Linked DNA regions of Homo sapiens. The protein of the gene in region 4 purifies or fractionates together with the protein of the main gene of each other region. This does not show direct contact. Each region holds a gene or a part of one and is shown on either strand. Other genes may lie near its edges.

Region 1 (5,697 bases), on a different chromosome or scaffold from region 4:
CCCTATCCCAGGTCAACTCCTGGAGCGGCTCCATTGAGATTGGGGTGACAGCGCTGGACCCCAGTGTGCTGGACTTTCCAAGCAGTGCCACGGGCCTGAAGGGGGGCTCGTGGGTAGTGTCGGGCTGCTCTGTGCTGAGAGATGGACGCTCTGTGTTGGAGGAGTATGGTCAGGACCTGGACCAGCTTGGTGAAGGGGACCGCGTGGGCGTGGAGCGCACAGTTGCTGGGGAGCTTCGGCTCTGGGTGAATGGGCGGGATTGCGGTGTGGCTGCCACAGGCCTGCCCCCTCGTGTCTGGGCCGTCGTGGACCTTTATGGCAAGTGCACCCAGATCACCGTGCTACCCCCTGAGCCAGGCTTCAGCCCCCCTACTCCCATCCCCACACCTCCCCTCGAGCCCTTGGCCCCCACTGAAGACTCTGCCTTGGCTGAACAGGGGACCTCTGCAGATGAAGGTGAGAACACAGCTAGGGCAGTGGTGGTGGGGTGGGGACGGAATGGGGGAAATAGAGTGACAAGACAGGCTGGGTGTGGGCAGGGCCACCCTGATCCCCAAGTCTGTTGAATGGGAGAGCAGGAGCTAGAGGATGGGGGGTTCTCCTGGCTATGGGCCGTGAAGCAGGGACTGAACCCTTATTCCCCTCCCATCCCACCTGGTCCCCAGCCTTCATGGTGTCCCCAGCGCAGGCCCGGCCGGAGACGTTTCCTAACAGCCTTGAGTCGCATAATGGTGAGGGCTTTGGGGAGGCCCTGGGAAGGGGAGTGGGAAGTGAGGTGGACAAGGGAGGGCCCTCAGGAGAAGGGGTAGGGAGAGAGGCACCAGGTCTGGGGGTGTAGAGCCTCATCCCAACTTCCGAGCTTCCTTCTTCCATCCTGCTGCTATAGACTTTGCCAACATGGAGCTGTCTGAGGTGGTGAGCAACACCATCCTGTCTGCCTACAATGGAGGGCTCCTGAATGTGAACCTGAGCTCCCCACCGGCAGGGGAAGGCCTGGGATCTAGCGGTGCTGCCACCTCGCCCATTCTCACTTCCAACGATGCCCTGCTCTTTCATGAAAAGTGCGGGACCCTCATCAAACTCAGCAACAATAATAAGACGGCTGAGCGCCGGCGGCCCCTGGATGAATTCAACAATGGGGTTGTCATGACCAATCGCCCCCTTCGGGACAATGAGATGTTTGAGGTGTGCAAAGTCCTGTGGTCTGGTTGGCGCCTTATCCCTGGGAGCTAAAGATGGGGATTGACCCTTGGTGCTAGGAGGGTGGGCCCTGGGGAAGAACCAAGGGCTGAAGGTCCCTTTCTGCATTTACATTCCCTGCTTCTCCCTTCTGTCCCTCAATGCCAGATCCGTATCGACAAGCTTGTTGATAAGTGGTCAGGCTCCATTGAGATTGGGGTCACCACCCACAACCCCAACAGTTTGGAGTACCCAGCCACCATGACCAACCTCCAGTCAGGTACCAGCCCCGGGCAGGGGCGGGGGTGCAGGCCTGGTGTTGCTGAGGGGAAGGAAGCCCCGTACCCGAACCCAAGTGTCCACTATCACCCAGGCACCATCATGATGAGCGGCTGTGGAATCCTGACCAATGGCAAGGGCACCCGCCGGGAGTACTGCGAATTCAGTCTGGATGAGTTGCAGGTGAGGGTGGGGCACAGATCCCTGGGCCGCTTTCAGCAGAGCCACAGGTACTCTGTGTCCCTGCCAGGGCACCAAGCAGGGTCTCCTATGTGACCTAGAGGCAGTCCCTGTATCTTCCACCTAAAGGTTCCTTCCTAGAAGCCTGAGTTGCCCAAGAGTTCAGCACTCAGATTTTGGAGTCAGATGGTTGAATTCCTCTTACTGTTTTCCCATTTGTAGTAGCGAACCGGGGCAAGAAGCTTATCCTCTTTGATTGCTCCCCCACCTCCTGCAATCTCTAAAATGAGCCTACGAGTAGTACTTATTCCATAGGCTGAGACTTGTAGAAGCTAATGTCTGTGAGGTGGTTTAACTCAGTGCCTGACTCACGTGGAGCATTGACGAAATGTGGAAATTGTCATGTCTGGAAAACAAGGACCCAGGACCTGTCCTCCAGGGTGGTCTGAGACTCTCACGAATACCTTCTGGAGTTGTTCCTGTGTGGAGTGGGGTGCTGAGCAGGCCTCAGGACTCCTCTAAACTGTTTGTCTTCTTTGATTAGGAGGGTGACCACATTGGCCTCACAAGGAAGTCCAACTCTGCCCTACACTTCTTCATTAATGGTATCGATCAGGGTAAGGGCCGCCCAGAGAGAGCCTCTGGGCCGGGGCTTTCGGTGGGGCTGGGACTGGGGGCTGTACCTCATCCTCCTGCTTCTCTTTGGTGCTTGGCCTCCCTGTGTTTGACTTTCTCCCCTCATTCTCCCTGTCCACTCCCACACCCCCGTACCTTCCTGCCACAGGAGTGGCAACCCCCTTGACGCCCCCAGTGGTGTATGGTGTGGTGGACTTGTACGGGATGGCAGTGAAGGTGACCATCGTCCACAATAACAACCACAGTGACCGTCTCCGCCGAAACAACGCCATCCTGCGGGCGCTGTCCCCCGAGGGTGCTCTCCGCCGTGCTGCCCCTGCCGCCCAGGCAGAACCTGAGCGCCTGCTCTTCCACCCCAACTGTGGGCAGAAGGCAGCCATCACCCACGAGGGACGCACTGCCCTGAGGCCCCAGTATGGCCCATGGGGTGGGGAGAAGCCTGAAGAAGGGATTCTAATGGGGGGGGGGGGGCGGGGCAAGGAAGTGGAAGGCAGAGGGAGCCTGGCGGGGGCAGCTTCCTGGAGGTTGAGCTTTAGTTCTTTGGCTTGGGGCAGTGAGTGTTGGCAGGCATTGCTGGGCTAAGCCTTGGCACATTGAGAGCGTGTGTTGGGGATCTGACTCTCCACTTGCTGTGCCCTCAGTGCCACCGATGACTTCAATCACGGCGTGGTGCTGAGCAGCAGAGCCCTGCGGGATGGAGAGGTGTTCCAGGTGCGCATCGACAAGATGGTGGACAAATGGGCTGGCTCCATTGAAATTGGTGTCACCACCCACAACCCTGCCTACCTCCAGTTGCCCTCCACCATGACCAACTTGCGCTCTGGTGAGCTCCCAGGAAGGGCAGGGACAGGATAGGGTTTTGGGGGGAAGCTATCCCCAAAGCCCTGGCACTTGTTCTGCAGCTCCTTTTTCACTTGTCACTCTTGTGACCACTCATTCAGTGGCTAGAGAGTGTCCCGTGGGCAGGGCTGTGGCTGTCTTGGAAGCTGCAGAGTTTTCTTGTCCTGCTCAGGGAAGAAATCTAGTCATCAAAGAAAAGGCAAGGTGGACTGTGGGCTCGGGAGTCCTGTGGGCGCTGCTGTGGCAAGGAGAGGAGCCCTGCATTTCCCCTCATGTCCCCTCCTGCTCCTTGTCCTCCCAGGGACCTGGATGATGACTGGGAATGGGGTGATGCACAATGGGACGACCATCCTGGATGAATACGGGCACAATCTGGACCGCCTCAAGGTGGGAAAGTGGGTGCGCCGCCTGGCGGCCGCAGCGGGCATCACAAACACCGCGGGGCTGATGCAGGACCAGCCCCGGCAGGAACTCTGCCTGACTCCTCACTCCAGCACCCCCTTCTTCCAAGGCAGGGGACACGGTGGGCGTGGTACGGCGGGAGGACGGGACTCTCCACTTCTTTGTCAATGGGATGACTCAGGGCCCTGCTGCCTGGAACGTGCCCCCGGGCGTCTATGCTGTCGTCGATCTCTATGGCCAGGCGGCCCAGGCCACCATTGTGGACGACGTGGGTGAGGGCCGGGCTGGGCTGGGGCTGGGGGTTAGGGTGGCCTTGGGAGGTCTGAGAGACACCTAGAGACCTGATGGGTGATGTCCACTTTTACAGAGGTGGCTCCAGTTCCTGAACCACTCCCTGAGGGGAACAACCAGGTGTCTCCAAGCTCTCCGTCCTCAGGGGCCGGGGGCTCTGACCTGCGCTTCCATCAGCTGCACGGCAGTAACGCAGTCATCACTAACGGGGGCCGCACCGCCCTCCGCCACAACTGTCGCAGCGAGTTTAATGACGCCATCGTCATCTCCAACCGGTCAGTCTCTCAACTTTCATGTCCCCACCTTCCTCCTGCCCAGCCTCAGCCATGCAAGTAGAGCCTCTCTGATCGCCAGTCTCCTGGCAGGGCCCTGCGGGATGGAGAGCTGTTTGAAATTGTCATTCAGAAGATGGTGGACCGCTGGTCAGGCTCCATTGAGGCTGGTGAGGGCCGTCTGTGTGTGTTGGGGGCTGTTGGATGTCTGTGCCTTGGGGATCGGCCTTGACTTACCCCTGCCTCCTCCCAGGAGTGACTGCTATTCGGCCTGAAGACCTGGAATTCCCCAACACCATGACAGACATTGACTATGACACATGGATGCTGAGGTTGGGCTTCCTGCTTTGGGGACCAGCTTGGGGCTGAGTGGAGCTGGCTGGGATCAGGGAAGCAAGGTTTGGGCCTATGGTGGCTGTGGGTAGTGACAGACCTAGGGGATCTACCTGTCCCCTCCCCTTGAATTCTGGGAAGTCCTGCCCAGGCCCACAGGGGCTCAGTCCTCCTTCATCTTAGGCAGTTCTTGCTTTTTCCTAAGGGGATCCCAGGGACAGAGGAGATAGGATTGGGCCTTACACCCAGATCAAGACACCAGCCCAAGACATTGGAGGGTTCTGACAGACAGGGAGTGGGCAGGGGCCAATGTGAAGTTGAAGTTGGCAGGCTGACTCACCCCTTCTGCCATCCCCCCAGTGGTACAGCCATCATGCAAGACGGTAACACGATGCGCAACAATTATGGGTGTGACCTGGATGCGCTGGGCACAGGTGCACGCATTGGCATGATGCGAACTGCCAAGGGCGACCTGCACTACTTCATCAACGGCCAGGACCAAGGCGCTGCCTGCTCGGGCCTGCCTCCGGGTAAAGGTGACTATGTGGCTTTCAGCCTGCCACCCTCAGCCCAGACCACCTGGCTGTCAGGCTTCTGACCTTCCCTCTCCTCCCCAGAGGTGTATGCGGTAGTCGATCTCTATGGCCAGTGTGTCCAAGTGTCCATCACCAATGCCACCGGCCCCATGGACAACAGCCTGGCGACCAGCAACACTGCCACCGAGAAGTCCTTCCCACTGCACTCCCCAGGTGCGGCAGCAGGGCGGGGGCTGGACGGGCTCTGCTTGCCTGCTGTGCACCTGAGGAGTAGGGTTTCCAGGTTAGAGAGGTTCTGCAAAGACGGTTGGCTGGGGTAGCTGCCGGCTCCAGGGAAGGGACAGCCCACGGTGGCAAGCAGCCAGTGAGGGGGAGGTTACACCTGGTACTTAGAGCCTGGACACTTCCCTGCCACCAAGGGGCCAGGACACCATAAGCTGAGCATGCCAGGTTTGGAAATGGGCCTTGCTGTGGTGAAAAGAGGTATCAGGGCCGGGCGCAGTAGCTCACGCCTGTAATCCCAGCACTTTGGGAGTTCAAGGCAGGTGGATCTCTCGAGCACAAGAGTTTGAGACCAGCCTGGGAAACATGGCGAAACCCCGTCTGTACCAAAAATACAAAATGTAGGCAGGTGTGGTGGCATGCACCTGTGGTCCCAGCTACTTGAGAGGCTGAGGTGGGAGGATAGCTGGATCCCAGGAAGTCGAGGCTGCAGTGAGCCACGACTGTGCCCCTGCACTCCAGCCTGA
Region 2 (5,697 bases), on a different chromosome or scaffold from region 4:
TGCAGGTGGGGAGTTGATCAAGCTGGCAATGTGTAGCAAAGTCTTTAAAAATTGCATATCCTTGGGCCCTACAGTTCTACTACTAGGAATATGTCCTAACAAAATAAATAGTCTAACGTATTTACATAGTTTTTCGTTGTTTCAGACAATAGCAGTCTGAAAAAGAAAATCCAAGAAATATAGAAAACACATGAGCTCGTATTTCCTCTCTAGAAGCTATAAAGCTGTAAGAAGTCGGCCGGGCACCGTGGCTCACACCTGTTATCCCAACACTTTGGGAGGCCGAGGCGGGTGGATCGCCTGAGATCAGGAGTTGGAGACCAGCCTGGCCAACGTAGTGAAACCCCATCTGTCCTAAAAATACAAAAAATTAGCTGGGCGTGGTGGCAGGCGCCTGTAATCCCAGCTACTTGTGAGGCTGAGGCAAGAGAATCGCTTGAACCCAGGAGGCGGAGGTTGCAGTGAGCCGAGATCACACCATTGTACTCCGGCCTGGGCAACAAGAGTGAAACTCCATCTCAATTAAAAGAAAGAAAGAAAAAAAGCTGCAAGAAGTCATAGACATGGCTATATGCTGGTCTAACTGTTGACTTCCCAACTCTTTAGATGGAACATGTATAGGCAACATGGTGTAGAAAAAGAGTCTTGGCTTAAGAATTGGAATGCCTGAATCATGCTACTAACTAGCTGAGTTAATATAAATATGCAAATTTATGAAATTATTAAAATAATAATGTTAAAGAGTAGAAAAGTCTGTGAATCCCTTTACCCATGTATATGTGTTTGTCTTCACCGCTGATTTGCAAATAAGAAGTCTCATATCAAGTGGGAAGGGTAGATTTTTATAATTTCACTGAAATTCAATACCAAATGGTAAAATCTGGAATGCCTTGACTGTGAGAGAAAATAACAAAATATTTTAAATAGGGTATACATTCCAATTATTAGTTTTTGAAATTTATTCTAAAGAAATTTCTGCTCATATAAGGATGGGCAGAGGATAACTGGGCTTGAATAACTGGGCCACACCTACATTTAGGTGTGGTGGAGAGGCAGAGCTCCAGAGCAATCTGTTCAAAATTCTGTGATGCTGGAAATGCTCTATATCTTCTTAGTCCAATATAGTAACTACTAGCCACATGTGGCTATTAAACACTTGAAAGGTAGCTAGTGCGACTGATGAAACAGATTTCAAATCTTATTTAATGCTAAGTAATTGAAATAGCCACGTGTGTCTAGTGCTATCTTAATAGACAGTGACACTCTAGAATTAAGCACAACAAATAGGGTCTTTTATTTAATATCGGAGGTTAATTTCAAGCACCTCTGCTAAATTCGGATGATATAGATAGGACAAGAAGGTGAGTATTCTTTGTGCAATTTCCCTTTTATCTACAGAAATACAGATCAATGAAATCCTTTGATTCTAGTGACTGCAAGTCCAAGATTTTCCAGAGAAGTGTTGGTCTCAAGTAGTCTGTAGTTTTGTTTGCTTAAGAATTTTAATGCTCATTCATTTTCTCATTTATTTTTTTTAAAAAACCTTATATTGAATATATTTGTGTTGGACACTGACATTGAAAAGATAGTAGTAGTGCAGAGTTCCTTGATTCAGGAAATCCTTGGAGTATCCTAAGGAGTAAATGGTGCAGAGCAGATATTACAGAGGAGGGGAGAGAAAATGCTGTGTGGAGAAGGAAGCACTGGGATAAACCTTAAAGAAATGGCCAGTGTTCAATAGGAAGCTGGGGAAAGGAGGATCTTGAGAAACAGAACAGTATGGGAAAACCAGGGAGAGATGAGAATCAGAAATGTCTGGAAATGTAATAATGGCAGCAGCACAGAAAATAGACTAGTGTGTAGACAGAAATGAGTCCAGAAGTTAATGTTACAATCCAGAACAAGTATGAGGGAGGTTATGAGCTAAGGGGATGAAAGTAGAATTTAAAAAGAGTAGATTTGAGAGGTGTTTTGTCTGTTGCTTCTCTTTACAATAAGTCAGGTAGAGAACAACTGATTTATCTTTTAAGCCCCCTTGAAAATTGTCGATTACTGCATACAATGCTGGAGCAGGATTTTTGTGGCCAAGGAAACTGAGCGTATCTTACAATATGCAAGTTTTTCAAACAGGACCAACTTACATAAATCATCCTCTTGGAAGTAGGCGCAACTACATCATGTATGTAGTTGAAATGTATGACACATGACAATTTTGTTTGGGGATGTAATGTAACTGAGGTGGAAACTTAATATTTATGAGACTTCCTCTTTCGTTAAAATCTTAACATTCTTTGATTTTGACAAATAGTGTTTTTATTTCTTCCAAAAATACAAGAATTTTAAAAGTATATAATTAGGCATCGTTTAGAAAGGTCAAAAAAGCAATCGTCTGTTGAATTTATGATTTGGGTACATTATTCTTCTCCAGTCTTTACCCCATTTTGATGGACTTTTTTCTCTTGGCAGTATATCCAGGTTCATTTATAGGTGGGAAGACAGTAGAAGCTGTTATTCCAGCATCAAAGCCCCCACTGTTTTCTAATAAGACGTTAGGTTTTATTTCTTCCAAAGCCTTATGATCACTGCAGTCAAAAAAAGAAGGGTGGAAAATGCAGAAAAATGGTGGAGGAGGTGGAGTATGGTCTTGGTCATAAAGAAATGAAAGGAGAAAGGTATTACTGAAGAGTATGGGCATTAGTCTGACTGTAAGGAGGACTTTGGCAGTAACTACAAGCCAGAGTGAGTGAGGAAAGAATAGCAGCCATTTGGGCAATGTGCTGACCATGTGTGGCTTGATACTAGGAAACCTGAACATACAGCAGGACAGAGAGGAGCACATCATGTGAGAGTTCCATGAGTTCTCGGATTTAAGAAAATAGAAGACTTTCTAAGTGCCAGATACTGTTCTAAGTACTTTTTGTTTAACCTATTTAAGGCAATTAACCCTTTTTTTTTGGAGAACAGTCATAGAACATGGAAATCACTGAAGAAATGTAAGTAGTGGTGGGATGCAGTGGCTCACGTCTGTAATCCCAGTACTTTGGGAGGCTAAGGTGGGTGGATCACCTGAGGTCAGGAGTTCAAGACCAGTCTGGCACCAACATGGCGAAACCCCGTCTCTACTAAAAATACAAAAACAAAACAAAAACTAGCCAGGCATGGTGGTGTGGGTCTACTGTAGTCCCAGCTACTCAGGAGGCTGAGGCAGGAGAATCACTTGAACCAGGGAGGTGAAGGTTGCAGTGACCCCAGATCGCACCACTGCATTCTAGCCTGGGTGACAGAGTGAGACTTCATCTCAAAAAATAAAAAAATAAAAAAATAAGTAGTTATTATCTCTCCATCAATCCTCACAACAACCCTATGAGCAGGGTACTTTTACCATCTTTATTTTACAGATGAAGAAATTAAGGCCCGAGAGGTTAAGTAATCCCCCAAACAGCATACAGTTAATCAGAGAGAGCTCTATTTAATCAGCTCAACTACTACGCCATCCTGCCTACTCTTAATCTATGTTAATTTTATAATATGTACAGAGATGATACTTGTAACGTGCTCACAAAGTGCCTGACATATAGTAAACCTGCAAAAATGTTAGCAATTATCATTATGTAATAAGATTTAGAAGACTTTCCGGTATTTATGTCATTCTACACCGACACTGCTCAGAAATAGTAACAAGATTTTTAGGGCAGCTCTGGATTTTTCTTATGTAAAGTGTAAAGAAAGCTTTGTTTAGGAGCATGCCCTTATAAATTGGAGAAACTCTTCTTCTACCCAAATACTGTCAATCAGTTTGACTGGCACAGTTGAAGTTTTTACCTCAAAGAATGGGCCTCATTGAAATGTTCTATATACTCATCTACATGGCTCTGACCTTCTGACAGAGAATGACTGCTGCTAATGGTACTAATAAGAGCAAATGGAATTCCCTTCCAAGCTTGGTATTTGAATAATATGTCAATTTGTTCATTGCCGTCTTACTAGGAATTAAATGCGCTAATATTTTTATAACCTAAGGGAGCTAGTGCGAGGTTGGCAGCCAGAAAAGGGAATCAGGCCAGAGGCTGGCCAAGGCATAGTCATGAGGGGGTGGAAGGGTCACAAAGTCAAAGTCAAGCAGGTGGACCCAGGCAGAACCCAACCAGACTCTAGAACAAAGTTAGGTTCAAAGTTTGGTTCTTATCTCCTTTCCCTATAATGTGGGCTGGTAGGGGTGGGTTGATTGTCATCCTCTGTACAAAAAGAATTGTATGGAAAATTAGCTGGCTCTGAAATCTAACTGAAATAAGAAAGTCAATAAAAGCATAATTAAAGATACTTAAACATTGTAGATACAGGCAATGAAAGAACAATGCCTCTGTTGTACTGGATTTCCAGCAGGGAATGATGCTGTTTGGGTTAAGACACAGGTAAGGCAGAGGAGCTTTGAGAATACCATGGCTCAGGAAGGAAGAAATGTGAGAAAGCTAGAGAGGTACAGGAGACTACAGAGGAGAAGGGAAAGGCAAAATCTGGATTCTGAGTAATCAGAAGTTGTCGTCTGCTTTGGTGGCTCCTATAGTTCCCTTTGTCTTCATCAGTGACCTGAGAATTCACAGGGTTTTCACCAGTAATGTCACTGGGCAAGTGTGCCAGGCCGACCACCCAATAAGAGGACAAGGAAGAGAGAGTGGAAGGATCAGCAGAACTGTCACCACTCTGATTCTGTGGTGTGGGAGCTGGGGATGTGGGGTGGGGAATCTCTCTCTAGAGGTTTGTTCTCTGCTGTGTTACTCCCATCTGTGATGGCTTTTTCTCCATGAGCTTAAATGGTGATGGTTTTCTTCCAACTATTAGGGAATACATTGATAATGTTAGTGATTCATAGAGTGTCTGAAATAATCTCTGCAAATGTTATGTGTAGTTGGTTATCTGGAGAAGTAACAAGCTTTTATCAACCATAATAACTAAATTTGTATGGTGATTTACTGTTTGCAAAATATTCAATTATGTTATATTTGAATCTCCCACAATCCTAGGAGGTTGATGACACCATCAATTCCTTTATAAGGATGAAGGAAATCAAGCTCAATTACTTTCCTAGAGGCACTGGGTTTGATAGCAAAGCACAAATTTTAATTTACTGGTTTACTAATGCATCCTGCTTCATTCAACACCTCTTCACCTTTAAAAGTAAAAATTGTCTCAGTGATAGCTATTTACCTTTAGAAAATGGCTATTACAAATAAAGAACTCTTACATTTACTCAGATTGTTCAGATTAAATTCTCCCTTTAAACATACTTTCAAGGTAGTTTATGTACACAGTAGGTATTTAATAAGTGTTAACTGCTTGATTATTGTCTCTTTGTACTCCTCCAGAGCAATCATTCTGATTCTCACACACTGGATTAAAAGGTTGTTTATTTTGGAGTAGAAGGGAATACTCTGCAATTACAACTCCCAACATGGGAAACTAATGAAAAAAAACAAACAAACAAAAACGTGACGCAGTTCTTTTTAACTTAAGAAAATAATCTAGCTTCTAACATATAAATGAGTAGACTTAAAATAACTGGACAAAGCCAGAAGGCAACAAGGCAGACAACTTATACTTAGGCAAAACTAATCAAAGGAAATTATCATGAGCCCCAAAACTACTCTGCTTCTCATATCCATGCAACACCCAAACAATATACAATTTTATCTTGCCTAT
Region 3 (5,697 bases), on a different chromosome or scaffold from region 4:
AACCCTTGAGCAGCTGACTCAAGCATTTCAATACATACTTCAGCTTTATGCTTTGAAGGACTTTGGCAGAAATTCCTAAGGTTTCCAGTTACTGCAAATGGCAGAGGCATGCTTTTTGAACATTTAAGGCAGTACACTATTGGGCTACCAACTGGAGGAAATTAAAGACATTCTAAATGAATTCTTGAATAATATAGTGGTTAGAAAAGAACCCTTAACGATCTACTCAGTTCATTCAATCACACAGTAGCATCACTGAACTGATTACTACACACATCCTAAAACAAAAACAGACATACACATACAATTTATGTATTGCCTTATTAAAAGAGCAATGAATTTTATCTGAGTTGATGGCAATGCAGTCCATACCCCCATCTAATTAGCCATCCAGAATGGCTGAAGAGCTGTGGATGGACATCTGTTTCTATGTTTGGGAATGGCAAAAAGTTAACAGTCTTCTGTTTCAGTCCTATGTTAAGGCCTTAACCTGGACACGTGGCTGGATAAGCAGAGCCTTTACACCCCCACATGGAGCTTTCAGTTCAACTCAGAATCCACAACATATTTCAGAATCATTTCATTTTTCCTGATAGTTGAAGATAATCCTCAAAATAATTTAATTAAACACTGATGTTTACAAACTGTTTTGAGTGTTCAGATGCTGAAGCTAATTTTCTTTCTTCCATTCATGTATCCCTTTTTTTTTTTTTTTTTTTTTAAGATGCAGTCTCACTCTGTCGCCCAGGCTGGAGTGCAGTGGCACAATCTCAGCTCACTGCAAACTCTGCCTCCTGGGTTCACGCCATTCTCCTGCCTTAGCCTCCCCAGTAACTGGGACTACAGGCGCCCGCCACCACGCCCGGCTAATTTTTTGTATTTTTAGTAGAGACGGGGTTTCACCGTGCTAGCCAGGATGGTCTCGATCTCCAGACCTCGTGATCCACCCGCCTTGGCCTCCCAAAGTGCTGGGATAACAGGCTTGAGCCACTATGCCCGGCCTCACGTATCCCTTTTACTGAACGTGAAGGTGGGCTTCCTCCCACCCCAAAAGCATTACTGTGATCCCTTCTCTTCTTTAGAGTGACAAAAACACATACATGTACTGCACACATGTACCTGTAAAGATGTCTGGAAGGAACTTAATCAAAATATCAATAGTGCTTATATACAGGTGTAGGATTGCATTTTTTTCTTTATGTTGTTCTGTATATTTAAAATTTTTGTTAAGTCCATAGTATTTATTTTAAAAACGTATTTAAGAAATGAAGAAAACTTATTCTGAGACCTTGTTCAAACTCTATCTTAATTTTATTTTTGAGACAGGGTCTCACTCTGTCCCTCAGGTTGCAGGGCAGTGGCACAATCATAGCTCACTGTAACCTCAAATTCTTGGGTTCAAGTGATCCTGCCTCAGCCTCCTGAGTAGCTGCAACTATAGGCACACACCGACACATCTGGCTAACTTTTTAATTTTTTGTAGAGACAAGGTCTTGCTATTTTGCCCAGGCTGATCTCAAACTCCTGGCTTCAAGCAACCCTCCCGCCTTAGCCTCTCAAAGCGTTGGGATTACAAGCATGAGCCACCACCCAGCCTGTTGCTCAAACTTTAAACATGAAAGACATGTAAACGGAAATCTTGAGGCTTCAAAAACTATAATGCACTGGATAGGATCCAAAATCCAACTGATTCTTACTGAATTCTAAGCTCTAATGAATAAGGTTATGAAGAGTTCCATGTTTGGGGCATGAGGCAGCATCTGATTTTAAACTGAATGCAAGTGGCTTCTTTTTTTTTTTTTTTTTTTTTTTTGAGACAAGGTCTGGCTCTATCACCCAGGTTGAAGTGCAGTGGCATGATCTCAGCTCACTGCAACCTCCGCCTCCTGGGCTCAAACCATCCTCCCATCTTAGCCTCCTGAGTGGCTGAGACTACAGGTGCACACCACCATACCCACCTAATTTTTGTACTTTTAGTAGAGACAGGGTTTTGCCATTTGCCCAGGCTGGTCTCTAATTGGTGAGCTCAAACAATCCACCCGCCTTGGCCTCCCAAAGGGCTGGGATTATAGGTATGAGCCACTGCACCCCACCTGTTAAGTGGCTTTTTTTTTTTTAGTAGAGACGGGGTTTCACCATGTTGGCCAGACTGCTTGCCAACTCCTGACCTCAAGTGATCTGCCCACCTCGGAGTCTCCCAAAGTGCTGGGATTACAGGCTTGAGCCACCACGCCCACCCTGGCTTTTTAAAGCTTATCTAGGCTGGTGCTGAGCATGGTGGCTCACACCTGTAATCCCAGCACTTTGGGAGGCCGAGGTGGGTGGATCACGAGGTCAGGAGTTCAAGACCAGTCTGGCCAAGATGGTGAAACCCCATCTCTACTAAAAAATATAAAAATTTGCCGGGTGCGGTGGCAGGCACCTGTAATCCCAGCTACTGGGGAGGCTGAGGCAGGAGAATTGCTTGAACCCAGGTGGCAGAGGTTGCAGTGAGCTGAGATTGTGCCACTGCACTCCAGCCTGGGCTAGAAAGTGAGGCTCCATCACAAAAAAAAAAAAAAAAAAAAAAAAAAGCTTATCCAGGCCGGGCACGGTGGCTCATACCTGTAATCCCAGCACTTTGGGAGGCCAAGGCGAGTGGATCACTTGAGGTCAGGAGTTCAAGACCAGCCTGGCCAACATGGCGAAAGTCCATCTCTACTAAAAATACAAAATTAGCCAGGTGTGGTGGCGGGCACCTGTAATCCCAGCTACTTAGGAGGCTGAGGCAGGAGAACTGCTTGAACCCGGGAGGCAGAGGTTACAGTGAGCCAAGGTCATGCTATTGCACTCCAGCCTGGACAACAAGAGCAAAACTCCATCTCAAACAAACAAACAAATAAACAAAACGAAACGAAACAAAAACCTTATCCAAAAAGGATACATAATAGGGCAGACACAGCCTACGGCTGCAAACACACATATTTGGATAAATGGATCAACCTCTTTTATAAACATCAACTTCTCATATAATCGTTATGTTCCTTTTTATCTCTAACTCTTACCTTTTCCATGCCCCAACTGGTGATCTTTACTATGAGTTTAAGTGAAACTAAGTTAGTCACACAACATTATTTCCCCTGCTTTTGCAAGCAAGTTTGTTCCTGGATTATTCTCAGAGTGGAATATCTGGCTGTGCATTTTGCACAGGAATGAGTTATGTTGACAGTCACTGTTAAAGTATTCTCTCAGGAGGATTCTCTCCAACCTCATCCCAAGCTCTTCTCTCAAGTCAGGAGGCTGATAAATGACCACCAAAAACACGAGGAAGGAATTGCTTTGCTTTGAGTAAAAAGCCTTTTACATTCTCAACTTGCAGGTGTCTTTCAGCTCAAGTCTCCTGGCCATTTGGGGTTTGAGTAGACTGCAGTCTAGAGTCTGGTGACATGAACCTTGAATGAGTTCAGAGTGACTCTTTCACTCTTCCTCTTCATTCTAAAATAACATAGCAAATTCACTAATTTATTGAGCTCCTACTATATACCAGGAACTGTTTTAGGCATGTAGAATTATTAGCCAGTGAATAAAATATGCAAAAAATAATAATGTAATTAATAATTTAATGAAATTCTAGAGAAATGAAAACTTACATTCACACAAAAGCCTGTACACTAATGTTCTTAGCAGCTCTATTCGTAAGTACCACAGCTGGAAACAACCCAAATTTCCTTCAATGGAAGTGAATGGATAAACTGTGATACAGCTATAGAATAGAACACTATTCAGAAATAAAAAGGAACAAACTATTTATAACTCAGTAACTTGGATGAATCTGAAAGGCATTATACCAGTCTCAAAAGTTGTATGACCCCATTATTGAAAAGAAAAAAATATATGATGAAAAATTCAGTGGTTTCTAGCCAGGCGTCGTGGCTCATGCCTGTAATCCCAGCACTTTGAGAGGCTAAAGTGAGCAGATCACTTGAGGTTAGGAGTTCAAGACCAGCCTGGCCAACATGGTGAAACCCCACCTCTGCTAAAAAAACAAAAATTAGCCAGGCATAGTGGTGCACGCCTGTAAGCCCAGCTACTCAGGAGGCTGAGGCAGGAGGCTTGAACCCAGGAGGCAGAGGTTGCAGTGAGCTGAGATTGCGCCACTGCACTCCAGCCTGGGCAACAGAGCGAGACCCTGCCTTGACTAAATAAATAAATAAATAAATAAATAAAAATAAATTCAGTGGTTTCTAAGGGTTAGGGGTGAGAAGGGATATGATTATAAAGGGATAGCACAACAGAGTTTTCTGAAACCATGGAATGGTCCTGTATCCTGATTGTGGTGACAGTTACAAGAATTTATGTATGTGTCCAGATTCATAGAACTGTATACCTTAAGGGGAAAAAATTCAATTGTACAGTATGATAATTACAAAATAAAATAAGTAAATTATACAGTATATTGGAAGATGTTAAGTGTAATGGGAAAATGAAACACAGCAAGGGAAGGGGTCAGAAATGCTGCCCAGGGTGTCAGTTTGTAAATTTTAAATATGGTAGTTAGGGTAAGCCATTAATAAGATGTTTGAACAAAGACTTTAGGAGATGGGGGAGTTGGCCATGCAAATATCTGGGAGAAACATTCCAGCCAGGGAGACAGTGTTAGGACAGTAACAGGAGTTACTAACAGGAGTGTTAGACAGTAAGGAGACCCAGAGTAACTGGAGCTGGGTAAGTGAGGGGGACAGAGTAGTAAATGGGGTCACAAAGGTAACGGGGCTGGGAGGCAGACCATGTACGGCCTTTTAGGTCATGGCAAGGACTTTGGCTTTTATTCTGAAACAGGAAGCTATTGGGAGATTTTCAGGAGCAAGTGACCACTATGTTGAAAATAGAATAAAAGAAGGCCAAGGCAAAAGCAGGAAGACCAGCTGGCAGGTTAACAGGGATGAGAGATGATAGGAGTTGGACCAGGGGAATAGTAGTGGAGGTGGTGAGAAGTGGTCAGATTCTACATCAGATTACATAAGGGGGTGGCAAAAAGAAGAGTCAAGGATAATGTCAAGATTTTTGTCCCGAACAAGGCTAGAAGGATAGCGTTCCCCTTGACAGCTTTAGAAGAAAGATCAGGAACTTGAGACATACATTAGACAATCAAGTCTAACAGGCAGCTAGATATATAAGTCTGCAGTTCAGGAAATGGGTGTAGGCTAAAAACATAAATTTGGGAGCTATTAGCATATAGTTGCTATTTAATGCCATGAAACTGGATAAGATCACTGTATCAGTCAGGATCCCAGCAGGAAACGATAGTAAGGGATTTAATAAAGGGACAACTTATGAAGATGTGGGCAGAGTGCAGGGAAACCACATGGAAAAATAGAGTGTAGTATCCCATGGCTATTAGCTGTTTCCACATGTAGGCCTGAAGGAAATAGGAAAGAGAGTGGGTACCAAACCCAGAAGAAAAGAGCCCTATAGAGACCGATGTGAGAGGAGCAGTGACTTTCAGTCAATTCAGCCAGATTGCACTGACCTGCGAATTGGGGGCCAAGGGGATAAATGCTCCAACCTCACCCTCCTCCTTCTTTCCCTCCAATGTCCTATTGGGGCTCTACATTGGCCAAACCCAACAAAAACCAAAGGCCAAGGAAGTCTGCTGATGTTGTCCACGCAGGTCAGCGTCCGGGACAGATGGCATGTAGAGAAGGAGCGGACCTAGAA
Region 4 (5,953 bases):
TCAAGACAAGAGCAATATTAGATTTATGTCTGACAGCATTAAAAAGCTGCAAGCACAAGAGGATGGAGAATACATTTTCTTTTTAATATCTAGGGAACATACATGAACACTGATAATCTATTAGGCCAGAAAGAAAATATCAATTTCAAAAGGTAGAAACATTACAGACATTTTCTGAATATAGTATGATAAAGCTAGAAATTAATTATCAAAAATTCCCCTGTGCTGGAGATTAAGAAATTGTCTTAAATGATGCTTGAGTCAAAGGGGGAAATAAGAACCAATGCTGAACTTCTAAGATGGAATTAAAGCATAAGGACAGTTGCTAGCATCTATGCTGTCATTGTGTGAATTAGAAAAGGAGTTCCTTTTTCAAGTAAAAGCAGAGACCAACCCTGCTGTATCTGTGAGTAGTCAGTGACGATGGCCTGGAGCCCAGCTGGCTGAAAGATGAGCATGAGGCTCTGGGGAATTAGAGCCAAAATGAGTTGGTAACTGGAGAAGAAAGAAAACATATAAATTTCTCTTCTCTAGGGGAAAAAAAACCTGAGTATGAGTTTTCCCTTAAGACTGGAAGCAAATTTCTATTAAAGTGCTTGCTAGCAAGATTTTGAAGGCCAGGAAAAAGTCATACACAAGAAATGTTTCTTTGATTGAGTTCTATATTCACAAGACCTGACTCCTAAGAACAAAAAGACAAGAAAGCAGCTTATTAAAATGCAAGAAGTTTAATAAACTTGTTACTTTCTATAACCCACTAGAGAATTTACCTGTTTCAAATGCTTTTTATTTTTTAATTTTTAATTTCTTTTTTTGAGGCAGTGTCTTGTTCTGTCACCCAGGCTGGAGTGCACTGGCACGATCTCAGCTCACTGCAACCTCCTCCTCCTGGGTTCAAGCAAGTCTCATGCCTCAGCCTTCTGAGTAGCTGGGATTACAGGTGTGTGCTGCCATGCCCAGCTAATTTTTGCATTTTTAGTAGAGATGGGGTTTTGTCATGTTGCCCAGGCTGATCCTGAACTCCTGGCCTCAAGTGATCTGCCCGCCTTAGCCTCCCAAAGTGCTGGGATTACAGGCATGAGCCACTGCACCTGGCCAATTTTTTAATTTTTTGTGATAGATCTTGCTGTGTTGCCCAAACTGGAGTGCACTAAGTAGCACAGTCATGGCTCACTGCAGCCTCAACCTCCCAGGCTCAAGTGATCCTCTCGCCTCAGCCTCCCAAGTAGCTGGGACCACAGGCACACACTACCATGCCCTTCTAATCAAACACTTTAGAAATATAACTATGTCATTTTAACAAGTTACTGTGTAGAGTGTGGAAATCTTAGGGGATCAATAAAAGAGCCAAAAAAAAAATCCCCAAATAAGTTACTGTGAAAAGTAATAGTCAAAGTTTTCTATCACCTGATGTAAATGATTTGTGAGTAAGCTTGCCAAGCCTGTCTTAAAGGATGCCTATATTCAAAGCCAAGAAAAGTCCCAGTTTGTAATTGTGTTGCTATTATAACCATTCAGATAGTCCCTTCTTGGAGCAGTAGAATATTTTTGAATGGAGGGACTCCTGACATTACTTTCCTAAAATCACAAAAGGCTGTCACTCTCAGGGTTTTGTTTTGTGTGGATAACTTTCTCTTACAGTCACATCTCTCCTAGAATGGGAGCAATAGAGCCTCTAGGTGCTATGAAAGGATGGGGACCTCACCAGAGAGGACTGGTCTCAGCAATGTCCTTAAGTGGTCAAAACATGCTGCGGTTGAGGTCAGGATTGTGAGGGGATAGAGGTGACGTAGAGAAGTAACTGAGTGCATTTAGACTGAGATGAATAGCAACCTAGAAATTAAGGAGGGGAAGAGCTATTGTAGAGCTCTTTCTGGCATGAGGAGTAGGGATAGCTCAAGGTTGGTTTTGATGCAGGAGTCACTGGGCAGGAATTTAAGAGGCTTCCATTGTGACACAAAGGAGACAGACACTATGGATAGGCCACAATGGTGCAGTGACAAAATAAAGACCTGGTTGCTAGGGCCAGAGAATAAACACCGGGTGCCTAGAGGAGAAGAGATGGAGCCCCAGCCTTGGTCCCCTTTCCCACCCTTCCTCCCCACAAGGCTGTCTGAGATGCCACCTTCCACCTAAACATCATCTCCCAAATTTTAATCCTTAACTTTGGTCTCTGACTTCTGCTTGATTCCACAGTCTCCACCCACATTTGCACAAAGGACCATCACCTGTCCTTCCTGGAATCTCTAAAGTTTTCTGCTTTCCTTCTGTCCTGATGGCCAGCTCTGCTAAGTCAGCTGAGATGCCCACCATCTCCAAAACCGTTAACCCTACTCCTGATCCTCATCAAGAATATCTGGACCCTAGGATTACCATTGCCTTATTCGAAATTGGATCACATTCCCCTTCCTCCTGGGGCTCTCTCCCTTTCCTAAAGAATAGCAGCCATCAAGTTACAGAACAACAGACTGCACAGAAGTTTAACAATCTCTTAAAAGAAATTAAAGATATTCTTAAAAATATGGCAGGTTTTGAAGAGAAGATCACAGAAGCAAAAGAACTTTTTGAGGAAACCAATATTACTGAGGATGTGTCAGCCCACAAAGAAAATATCAGAGGACTTGACAAAATCAATGAAATGTTATCAACAAACCTGCCTGTTAGTTTAGCCCCAGAGAAAGAAGACAATGAAAAGAAACAGGAGATGATATTGGAAACCAATATTACTGAGGATGTGTCAGCCCACAAAGAAAATATCAGAGGACTTGACAAAATCAATGAAATGTTATCAACAAACCTGCCTGTTAGTTTAGCCCCAGAGAAAGAAGACAATGAAAAGAAACAGCAGATGATAATGGAAAACCAGAACTCTGAGAACACCGCACAAGTTTTTGCAAGAGATTTGGTAAATCGTTTAGAAGAAAAAAAAGTCCTTAACGAAACTCAACAAAGTCAGGAAAAAGCAAAAAACAGACTTAATGTTCAAGAAGAAACTATGAAAATTAGGAACAACATGGAGCAGTTACTACAGGAAGCAGAACACTGGAGTAAACAACATACTGAGCTCAGTAAACTGATAAAATCCTATCAGAAATCTCAGAAAGACATAAGTGAAACTCTTGGAAATAATGGAGTCGGTTTCCAAACCCAGCCAAATAATGAAGTGTCGGCTAAGCATGAGCTGGAGGAACAGGTGAAGAAACTGAGCCATGACACCTATTCATTGCAGTTGATGGCAGCTTTGCTAGAGAATGAATGCCAAATCTTACAGCAGAGAGTAGAGATTCTCAAGGAACTCCATCATCAGAAACAGGGAACTCTGCAAGAGAAGCCAATTCAGATAAACTATAAACAGGACAAGAAAAATCAGAAGCCATCAGAAGCAAAGAAAGTAGAAATGTATAAGCAGAACAAGCAAGCAATGAAGGGTACATTTTGGAAAAAAGACAGATCCTGTAGAAGCCTGGATGTTTGTCTTAATAAGAAAGCTTGCAATACCCAGTTCAATATTCATGTTGCAAGAAAAGCTCTTAGGGGAAAAATGAGGTCAGCTAGCAGCCTAAGATAGAAAATACCAAAAGCAGATGAAAAGGTGAATCCTTAAAAAACTACATCTGTTACCTCCAACTTGTCAGTCATGATCAATCATCAAACCTTGGGCAGATCTGCTGGTTCAACCAAGAAAGAGCTATAGAATAAGGAGATTGACACTTATATTACTCATTACTTCAGCAGTTATGTAAGTCTGGTCTTTAATGACCATTGTGTCTACATCAAGTTCATAACTTTTCACCTTTACAATCTGCTTGTTTTTTTTGTAATTATTAGATAGACAGCCTAGAGTGAGAAGTTAAAGGTCCAATTAAGTAAAGATCTAAATAAAAACCAGAATACAAGGGAAATTTTTTTTTTCTTTATTTAATCATTGCCTGGGGGCAGGGGGAGTTCTGGGGGGAAAAAGTATATAGTGTTTTTGGCCAGGTGCAGTGGCATTTTGGGAGGCCAAGGTGGGAGGATCGCTCGAGGCCAGGAGTTTGAGACAAACCTGAGCAACACAGCAAGATCCCATCTCTAAAAAAAAAATTAAGTGAAAAAAAAGTACATAATGCTTTAGTTGTGACCTTTTAAAGCTCCCTTTCTAAATGTATGTTTCCTTTTCCTATTATACACTGAAGTGTGGGATGTGGGGGAATTTAAAAAATGCTGATAATCCAACCCTAACAAATCATTTTTCTCTTATAAATCTGCACTGGCTCTACTTTTCCTAAGGTGCCTCCCTTGCTCCTCTGCTAGTGAACTGTGGGCATACGGGGCAGCAGAGGCCCTTGGGAAGGACCCCCTCAACTTGTTTGGAAGAATAGAGACATATCTGAATTTTATTTTATTTTATTTTATATTTTATTTTATTATTTATTTATTTTATTTTATTTTTGTATTGTATTGTATTGTATTGTGTTATATATTTTTGAGGTGGAGTTTTGCTCTTGTTGCCCAGGCTGGAGTGCAATGGCACGATCTCAGCTCACTGCAACCTTCACCTCCCAGGTTCAGGCGATTCTCTTGCCTCAGCCTCCTGAGTTGCAGGATTACAGGTGCCCACACCACACCCGGCTAATTTTTCTTATTGTTTAGTAGAGATGGGGTTTCACCATGTTGGCCAGGCTGATCTCAAACTCGTGACCTCAGGTGATCCACCTGCCTTGGTCTCCCAAGGTGCTGGGATTATAGGCGTGAACCACCGTGCCGGCCTAGATTTTATTTTTGCTGGAAAAGTTTCTCCCATTCCTCCAGATATAGACGGTAGTGTTACCCAGGGGGAAAAAACAGTATCTTCTGTTAAGGGAGCTGGATTTCTGGTTCCAGAAAAGATGGAGCTGATAAATTTTCCCCTATTCTTCTCTTTAAGTAAGCTGAAACCCCTGGACATTATATATAAAGCAAATATAAGAAGATTCTGAAAGATGGAGAGAAGGAGGTAGAATGGTTAGGGACCCTGAAACTTAAGGAACAACATGGTGCTTAGTTCTCTGGGTTTTCTTTTTGCCTCTTATATATTCTGAGCTAGGTGCTGGAGAAGTCCACAACCTAAAAATGTCAATGCATGTAGACAAAAAAATTCCCCCATAAAGCCTGCTTTCTTTTGTCAACAGATGAGGAAAGGAACAGTCTGGTGAGACAGAAACCTTTTTGACAAAACTGCCCTAATCCAGCCAAATTGTATAGAAACATATTTCTACCCCCATCCCTGTTGGCAGATACTGAGTAGAGAGCCTAGACATTCATCCTTGCCTGGCAGTCATGAGGCACACCTCCCCTACTCTACTGGGATGGTGCAGAGGAGGTAAGAGTAGGGATCCTAAAGTTCTATCCTCCACCTGATGGTAACAGTGCTCTTCCCTGGCCTCCCCCAACCCCTCCAGTAGAGTGGAGTCCACGTAAGTAGCCTAGATTTCTACTCCTTTTCCCTGCTGGCATCATCAGCAGGGCCCTACTAAAAAAGAAGACTTAAGATCCAGGGTCTCCTAACAATCCCTAAAATGTCCAGAATACAATAGAAAAATCACTCATTATATTGAGAGCCAGAAAAATCTCAACTTGAATGAGAAAAGACAATTAACAGATACCAACAATGGGACAACACAGACAATAGAGTTATCTGACAAGGATTTTAAAGCAGTCATTATAAAAATGCTTCAGGCCAGGCGCGGTGGCTCACGCCTGTAATGCTAGCACTTTGGGAGCCCGAGGCGGGTGGATCACCTGAGGTCGGGAGTTTGAGACCAGCCTGACCAACATGGAGAACCCCCGTCTCTACTAAAAATACAAAATTAGCTGGGTGTCATGGCACATGCCTGTAATCCCAGTTACTCGGGAGACTGAGGCAGGAGAATTGCTTGAACCCAGGAGGCAGAGGTTGCAGTGAGCCAAGATCATGCCATTGCACTCCAGCCTG

The links.
Region 1: the proteins of SPZ1 (region 4) and NEURL4 purify together in Homo sapiens (affinity purification with mass spectrometry; 3 studies listed by BioGRID and IntAct, with this or other methods). This does not show direct contact.
Region 2: the proteins of SPZ1 (region 4) and DTNA purify together in Homo sapiens (affinity purification with mass spectrometry; 3 studies listed by BioGRID and IntAct, with this or other methods). This does not show direct contact.
Region 3: the proteins of SPZ1 (region 4) and SNTB2 purify together in Homo sapiens (affinity purification with mass spectrometry; 2 studies listed by BioGRID and IntAct, with this or other methods). This does not show direct contact.

What each region holds. Positions count from the first base shown.
Region 1 is NC_000017.11:7,322,199-7,327,895, reverse strand, and holds part of NEURL4 (neuralized-like protein 4), read left to right. Parts: intron 1-11; coding exon 12-456; intron 457-665; coding exon 666-731; intron 732-886; coding exon 887-1,185; intron 1,186-1,347; coding exon 1,348-1,459; intron 1,460-1,552; coding exon 1,553-1,641; intron 1,642-2,182; coding exon 2,183-2,255; intron 2,256-2,422; coding exon 2,423-2,687; intron 2,688-2,915; coding exon 2,916-3,097; intron 3,098-3,415; coding exon 3,416-3,501; intron 3,502-3,625; coding exon 3,626-3,788; intron 3,789-3,883; coding exon 3,884-4,082; intron 4,083-4,172; coding exon 4,173-4,249; intron 4,250-4,332; coding exon 4,333-4,411; intron 4,412-4,772; coding exon 4,773-4,948; intron 4,949-5,029; coding exon 5,030-5,161; intron 5,162-5,697. UniProt on the Homo sapiens protein: Promotes CCP110 ubiquitination and proteasome-dependent degradation. By counteracting accumulation of CP110, maintains normal centriolar homeostasis and preventing formation of ectopic microtubular organizing centers.
Region 2 is NC_000018.10:34,716,044-34,721,740, forward strand, and holds part of DTNA (dystrobrevin alpha), read left to right. Parts: intron 1-5,697. UniProt on the Homo sapiens protein: May be involved in the formation and stability of synapses as well as being involved in the clustering of nicotinic acetylcholine receptors.
Region 3 is NC_000016.10:69,238,045-69,243,741, reverse strand, and holds part of SNTB2 (beta-2-syntrophin), read right to left. Parts: intron 1-5,697. UniProt on the Homo sapiens protein: Adapter protein that binds to and probably organizes the subcellular localization of a variety of membrane proteins. May link various receptors to the actin cytoskeleton and the dystrophin glycoprotein complex.
Region 4 is NC_000005.10:80,317,941-80,323,893, forward strand, and holds SPZ1 (spermatogenic leucine zipper protein 1), read left to right. Parts: upstream 1-2,061; 5' UTR 2,062-2,275; coding exon 2,276-3,568; 3' UTR 3,569-3,902; downstream 3,903-5,953. UniProt on the Homo sapiens protein: Transcription factor that binds to the DNA sequence 5'-CANNTG-3'(E box) and the G-box motif. May play an important role in the regulation of cell proliferation and differentiation during spermatogenesis.